Homo sapiens: one gene and its partner. The protein of the gene in region 2 purifies or fractionates together with the protein of the main gene of each other region. This does not show direct contact. Each region holds a gene or a part of one and is shown on either strand. Other genes may lie near its edges.

Region 1 (3,823 bases), on a different chromosome or scaffold from region 2:
CTACTGAATTGAAAAAAATAAGTTTTTGTCTTTATAAAGGGATGGTACTATAAGCCCTGACAGTTATAGTCTTTTTAACGTCAACTACCATACCTAAACATTGAAACAGAAAGATATCCACATTATTCAAAAACAGATCAAAAGACTGATTTTTTTAAAAAAAATCCATCATGATTAAAAAAGATGAGTTTAACACACAAACATGTCACCTCTGCCAAGTGATGTGGAGAAACTCCACATCAAACTCAAAACTGTTCTTCAATTTCAAATCAAGCTATTATCAGAAATATTTTTAATAGCTCCAGTTTGCAAAGAGGTGAATGTCAATTTATGGAACATTTGCCATTGAGCGAAAGACTGATAAAGAATAAGTACAGTTAACAGATCTTGCAACTCCCTTACTGATAATCCCCAGTGAAATTAAAATAAAGGCTGGGGGTGGTGGCTCATGCCTGTAATCCCAGCACTTTGGGAGGTCAAGGCAGGCAGATGACTTGAGCTCAGGAGTTCAAGACCAGCCTGGGCAAGATGGTAAAACCCCATCTCTACCAAACATACAAAAAAACCAGCCAGGTGTGGTGGTGCATGCCTGTGGTCCTAGCTACCTGGGAGGCTGAGGTGGGAGGATCGCTAGACCCCGGGAGGCAGAGGCTGCAGTGAGTCGAGATCACACTGTGCACTCCAGCCTAGGCAACAGAGTGAGACCCTGTCTCAAAAGAGAAAGAAAGAAATTAAAATAAAGAGTTACCTCTATCTTGGGAAGACAGACTACCTCCAGCTGGGGAAGCTGAGTAACTTCATGTTAGGGTGGCGTCTGTGCCAAGCCTTGAAAAAGCAGCAGGGTTTGTACATGCAGGTGTGGTAGAAAAACTTCAAATGAAGAGAAGAGATGACCAAAGGCACGGTGGAGGAAGAGGAATATATGTAAAAGAGAAAGTATATCTGACAGGTAGCATATTAGCATTTAGGAGTAGAGAATAAAGTGTTTTATGTGCCAAGAGTTAGGAATGTCTTTATTTAGGAAGTGAAAGCCGTTAACGATCACCAGAAGTCTGTTGTAGGATTTCTCTCAATTTGATACATACTCTTCTCTAAATACAAGCTACATCTATCTCTCACTATAGAATTCCAGAACTCAAGAATTTGAGGCACAAGTATCTCTGAAGGCAAAGAATAAGGTAAGGTTTGAAATAGGAAAACTGTTTGCAACTCATTTTAAGAAATAATCAGACCCACCTAGAATGACTCCCTTAATGAGGCAGAAAACCAGGGACTGATTCTCTAGAAAGGTTCAACCAAAAATAATCAGAACTTGTTGCACCAGGCACAGATGCTCATGGGAATGAAGCATCATAATGAAAACAAGATTCAAGTGAAAATTAACATGACCCTCATCCCTTTCCCTACTTGGTTTCAAGATGCTAACAATCAGGTTCATTCCCTGGCATAATACTGGAGTATTCTTCTCTGATTTCTCCTAATGAAAACTCCTACTGAGACTTAGACTGGGAGTCCCAGTTGGCTGACACTTCCCATGCAAAACTACAATAAAGCCCTCAGATACAGAGCATCACCCAAATTCAAGGAAAGCCAACCTGAAAGAAAACACTCGGAGGAAACAAAGACACTGTCAAAATAACTATAGTAGATATCCTAAGAGAAATAAAAGATCTTCCATCTGAAACATGAACGGGAAGCTTTCCAAAGAAATATACTAAGAAAGACCTCTTGAAATTCTACAAGACCACAGAAGTTGTCAGTATTATACAATGACTGGGAGATGAAGTTAAGGCACTCTCATAGAAAGTAAGACAGGAGAATATAAAATAAAGACAAAAGATAAAACTAGAAGGTCAGTCCCAGCAATCCAGGATCCAAATAATAAGAGTTTCCAAAGGAAAAAGCATTTAACAAAAGGGATGAAATTATGAAAGAAACATGAGGGCCCACTAAGTGCCCTGCACAGTAAGTGAAAAATCCAAAACAAGTTATATCATCTTGAAATTAAAAACATTAGACATGAAAAGATCAGAAAGACTTCCAAAAGGAAATAATGGCAATCAGGTTTTTAAACAAAAGAGAAATCTAAATGGAACTAGACTTACTGGCAGTACTGGAAGCTAGAAAACAATACCTTTAAATTTCTGAGTAAAAATTATTCCCTGCCTAGAATTCTATAACCGTAACTATCAAACCACCATGGAGGTGAAATAAAAACATTTTCAGACGTGTAAGGCTTCCTCAGGTTTTGGATTATTAAAATGAGGGCTTAAGCCAAGAGAGAACAGCACATGGGACCCAGGAAACAGGAGGCTTAACAAAAAAGAGAGGCCAAGGAAATTCCTAAAAGTCCATATTGGAGCAGGAAGACAGCACCAGGTAAGATGTTTCCCAAAAACCCAATTGAAACTTGATATAATGTGTTTAAATCTTTTGAGAGGAACTCTATAGCTCTGGCACAGAGTGCAGGAATAAATTGGTAGTATATGGAAAGCTTATGTAAAAGAAAAATGCCATTAACTGCAGGAAAATTTAAAAACATGCCAATAGAAGAAATGTCATCACAATATACTCCACAATCTGGCTGTAAACAATACAGAGTCATAAACGTGAACCCTGAATATTGACTTAACCAAAAATTATGATATAAATATACTAGGAAGACAGAAGAAGGAGAATTATACGTGCTTGTTGTTGAGAAGGGTGTGGTAAGAAAGCTAAATCATCTTCCCTTATGGAAAGTCAATACGTAACACATCTTAAAACTGGGATAGTAAAAACTGAAAAGTAAATACCCGTAGCATACAAAGGTCTTTTTAGAAATGGAGAGGTAACATAAAAAGTAAACATGGCTGCAAGAACAGAGGACTGCAGGGTTTATGACGGGCATAGAAGAGACTGACTTTTTTATTAGACTTTTCGTTATTTGCTTTTAACTAGAGAAAATTAAGTTTTTAAAAATTACCAAAAAAGCAATGTAATTACCTGTCAAACTTTTGACTCACCCTGGCAGTAATTGTTCCGTGCTTTTCTCCTCTGTTGTTTATCATCCGAATCCCAGCCGACTGAAACATCTCCTTCATTTGAGTAGGGGTAGCAGTGGTGGCAAAATCTATATCCTGAGGCTTTACTCCATTTAATAAATCCCTCACTGCTCCTCCTGCTATTCTTAATTCGTGATTCTCTTTGACAAATAATTCTGAGATGAGAGAAAATAAGATTTTTATTCCCAAGTTCTTTATTTCAATGTGTTTATTTTAACCACAAAAGTACAAGGCTTTTCCATCTAGTTGGAACAGCAGAGATTCATTTAACTGAGGCTTTTCATATGAAAAATGAGAACAAGGCCCAAAGAAGTAAAAAGACTTGTCTACAGGAGAGTGCCTCTGAGGACCAACAGGAAACAGAGAACTTGCAGAATTCTTTGCTTATTCAGAAGATAATTCAGAATTCCACAATGCCTCAAAGTGATCAATATAAATTTGAAGTATTACTAAAGACTAAAGCAGGTCAGGCGCAGTGGCTCACATCTGTAATCCTGATACTTTGGGAGGCTGAGGTGAAAAGATCACTTGAGCCCAGGAGTTCAAGACCAGCCTGGGCAAAGAGCAAGACTCTATCTATACAAAAAATAAAAATAGCCAGGTTCAGTGGCGCACACCTGTAGTCCCAGCTACTTGGGAGGCTGAGGTGGGAGGATGGCTTGAGCCCAGGAGTTCAAGGCTGCGGTGAGCTATGATCGTGCCACTGCACTCCAGCCTGGGTGACAGAGCAAGACCTTATCTCAAAAAAAAAAAAAAGAAAAAAAAAGAAAGTAAATCAA
Region 2 (3,823 bases):
ACTGGGCTAAGGCAAACCTTATCCTACAGGTGAAGAAACTGAGGCCCAGAAAGACCAAGTAACATGCCCAAAGCCAGTCAGCTAGTTCAAGGCAAAACCACGACTCAGATTCCAGGCTCCTGACTGGATGCACAGGGCATCTTCTGTTACACTCAGCCTGAAACAGAAGACTGTGGGCATAACCATGTGGGAGCGACCATGGTACATTAATGATCTCTTTACTGCCTGTCATGTTAATGTGACCTTACCTTTCCATATGCTGCTTGATATTCCTTAACAATCAGCTGCCGCTGTGCATTTGACCTCTCAGTCAGAATGCTGATGAGCATTTTCTCATCAGTTCCTAAATGAAACAAAAGTTATTTTACTCAATATTTATGCTCAACATTTGTCTTGAACAAAAGCAAAATGATCAATGGCCTGAGACAAATGCAGAGAGTAAGGCATTTTAATTTCTAGCATCTTATCTGGTTGGAATTTTATTTATTTATTTATTTATTTATTTATTTATTTATTTTGTTTGCCTGAGTTTTGGAAAAAAAAAGTTAACTTTATTTGGATAGTTTTGGGGGGAAGGAAACAATCATTGTCTAAATACTCCTTTCTGTACATCAGACAAAACAACCTACTACTTTTGAACTTGACTTTTTTACCTTTATGAGGTTTGGTTACTGTCTTATTGCCTTTTATCTCTCTCCCATACTTGATATCAAAATATTTCTTCCTCTGGAAAACAGGAACCAACACTTATTGAAAATCTGCCCTGCATGAAACACCCTTTTATTCATTGCCATAGTTAATATTCACAGGGGCCCGCTGTACTAAAGATGAAGACACGAACTTATCTTCCTTGCCAAAGTCACACAACTGCTGAGTGGTCCAGCAAGAAGTTGAACCCAAATCTCTGACCCCAAAACATATATTTCTATCTTTGGTCCACATCTCTCTCATGCATTTCTTCCACATCTCTCTCTCCCTCCCTCCCTCCCTTCCTTCTTTCCTCCCTCTCTCCCTCCTTCCCTCCCTCCCTCCCTCCCTTTCTCTCTCTCTCTCTCTCTCTCTCTCTCTCTCGCTCTCTCTCTCCCCTTCGCCCTTTCTCTCTCTCTCGTTGCCCAGGCTGCAGTGCAATGGCACGATCTCGGCTCACTGCAACCACCACCTCCCGGGTTCAAGCGATTCTCCTGCCTCAGTCTCCCAAGTAGCTGGGATTACAGGCATGTGCAATCATGCCCAGCTAATTTTTTTTTTAATTTAGTAGAGATGGGGTTTCACCATGTTGATCAGGCTGGTCTCGAACTCCTGACCTCAGGTGATCCACCCGCCTCAGCCTTCCAAAGTGCCGGGATTTCAGGGGTAAGCCACCGTACCCGGCCTCTCTCATAAATTTCAAACCCATATACAAAATGAATTGTTTGTAAGCAAAAGGTAACATCAGGCCAGAGCTGATGCTGGCCTGCCTAAGAATGACCTCAAGGTCATTCTTATCTTGGTGACTACAGTAGTAAGAAAAACGTGGAAAGTTGTGTCTAATTAATTTCCCAACCCACGATGATACCTGGTTTGGGAAGCTGTGAATTGGCTTGCAGGCCTAGAGCATGCATGACTAGAGAGGTATAAAAGAGCACCTGGAACTCAATGCTCAACTTCTTTGTGTCAAGGTGACCCTCACAGACCTCATCTACACACTTCCGTGGCAGTGGTACACAGCTTACATCAATGATGAAGCAAAAGCTTCTGTGTACTTGGTTAGCTGCTGGGCCTCCCAATGAAAGATGCTGCCTTTCTGTGTCTTTGGTTTTGTATTCTTACACATAGTTAAATAAATACCGAATCAGATTAAAGTGTATTTGTGCTCTGTGGGTCTGAGCACCAATTTGGTGCTGTGTATTGTACCCAGCATCTGTGTCAGTACACTACCGGCCACCACAACTGCACAAGTATCTGAAACTCAGCACATTCTGGGTGGAATTTATTGTATTTCCTCTCTGACTTGTCTTTCTTTTTATGTTCCCTCATCCACAACTATGGATATAGTCATCCAGGCAAAAACCCTGGGAATCATCTCAGATTCCTTTCTTTATCTTATTCTCTATATTATAGCAATTATCTGCATCTCTTAAATTTGTCGTCTCCTCTGCATGCCCTCTGCTCCTGTGTCCTTATCATATTTTACCTGGATAACCTAAATCACCTCCTAATGTGACTCCCATATAATTATTCCTGTAAACTACTGCCTAAGTAAATGTTTAAAAATACAATCTGATCATGTCACCCCCTTGGCTAAAATTCTAATGGCTCTTTGTAATCTTCAGGATGAAGTTTAAGCCCCTTAGCTCATGTATCAGCTCATTATGATCTCTCCTGCCTTATGTCTTTGTTCTCATTTTCTACCCCCTCTCTGCATCTCTATAACCTATGCACCTAGACTACAACTATACCAAACTACCTGCAGTTATGTGTAGTTTGTATGCCTGGCAGTTTCTCATCTCTTATTTTTAAACATGCCCAAGATCAAAAACTAAGCCAAGATGCCTCAGGTTCAGAGACTGTGTCTGACCCATCCCTAATGCAAACACCGTTATGATACCTCATTCTGAACTCAGAACCTATCAGAAGTGGTGCTCATAAACAATAACCTCCTTCTTAAAGAAGGCCTGTAAGCCAAAGTGCAAATTCATGAAGAAACATAATGTTTAAAAAGAGGTGACAGAATTTAAAGACTATTAACCTCATGAAACAGTCTATTCAACACTAGATATAAATAGGGCAATCAGGCTGGGTGCAGTGACTCACATCTATAATCCCAGGACTTTGGGAGGACAAGGCAGAAGGATTACTTGAGCCCAGGAGTCCAAGACTAGCGTGGGCAACATAGCAAGACCCTGTCACTACAGAAAATTTAAAAATTAGGTACACATTGTGATGAGCATCTGTAGTCCTAGCAACACCAGAGGCTGAGGCCATAGGATCCAGGAGTTTGAGGCTGCAGTGGGCTGTGATCATATCACTGCATTCGAGCCTAGGTGACAGAGCAAGCCCTTCTCTCTTAAAAAAAAAATAAGGAAATCAAGAGATAAATGAAGAAATAACTTACATTGAAAAATGGAAAAAATAAACCTCAAACAGGCAGAAAAAACATAATATTATATTGATATAAAGTTCTAATATAGTATATTTATTGAATTTGACAAGCTGATTTTAAAATTCATAGAGGAGGGCAAAGAGCCAAGAAAGACCTTGCCTGGTAGATATTTAGTGTCATTATAAAATCCTAATAATTGTGACAATGTGGTGTTGGGAGGGCCAAATAGATAAATGAAGCATAACAGAGAAGAGAAAAATAGGGAAGCATAAAACATAGGTGATATTACGTACAAATCAGTGTGAAAAGGAAGAGCTCTTCAATACATTGTTCTGGGACAATTAAATGTCCACATGAAATAGAATAAAATGAGACACCTTTAAATACCATCCATGAACACTAATTCCATGTAGATTTAAGATCATAATACGAAAAATAAAATTTCAAAACTTTGAAAAAAAAAGTAGGAGAATATCTAACTTTATGACTTCGTTATAGAAAAGATTCAATAAGCATAAATCCTGGACAAAAATATTGGTAAACTTGATTTCACTAAAATTTAAAACTTCTATGCAATAAAAATTACTGTAACCAATTGTATTAATCCATTTCACGTTGTTGATAAAGACATACCCTAGCCTGGGCAATTTATGAAGGAACTCTTTAATGGAGAACTCACAGTTCCATGTGGCTGGGGAAGCCTCACAATCATGGTGGAAGGGAAGGAGGAGAAGTCACATC

The links.
Region 1: the proteins of ANXA3 (region 2) and TRNT1 fractionate together in Homo sapiens (co-fractionation; one large-scale study listed by BioGRID). This does not show direct contact.

Annotation. Positions count from the first base shown.
Region 1 is NC_000003.12:3,136,636-3,140,458, reverse strand, and holds part of TRNT1 (CCA tRNA nucleotidyltransferase 1, mitochondrial), read right to left. Parts: intron 3,200-3,823; coding exon 3,006-3,199; intron 1-3,005. UniProt on the Homo sapiens protein: Nucleotidyltransferase that catalyzes the addition and repair of the essential 3'-terminal CCA sequence in tRNAs, which is necessary for the attachment of amino acids to the 3' terminus of tRNA molecules, using CTP and ATP as substrates. tRNA 3'-terminal CCA addition is required both for tRNA processing and repair.
Region 2 is NC_000004.12:78,575,547-78,579,369, reverse strand, and holds part of ANXA3 (annexin A3), read right to left. Parts: intron 344-3,823; coding exon 249-343; intron 1-248. UniProt on the Homo sapiens protein: Inhibitor of phospholipase A2, also possesses anti-coagulant properties. Also cleaves the cyclic bond of inositol 1,2-cyclic phosphate to form inositol 1-phosphate.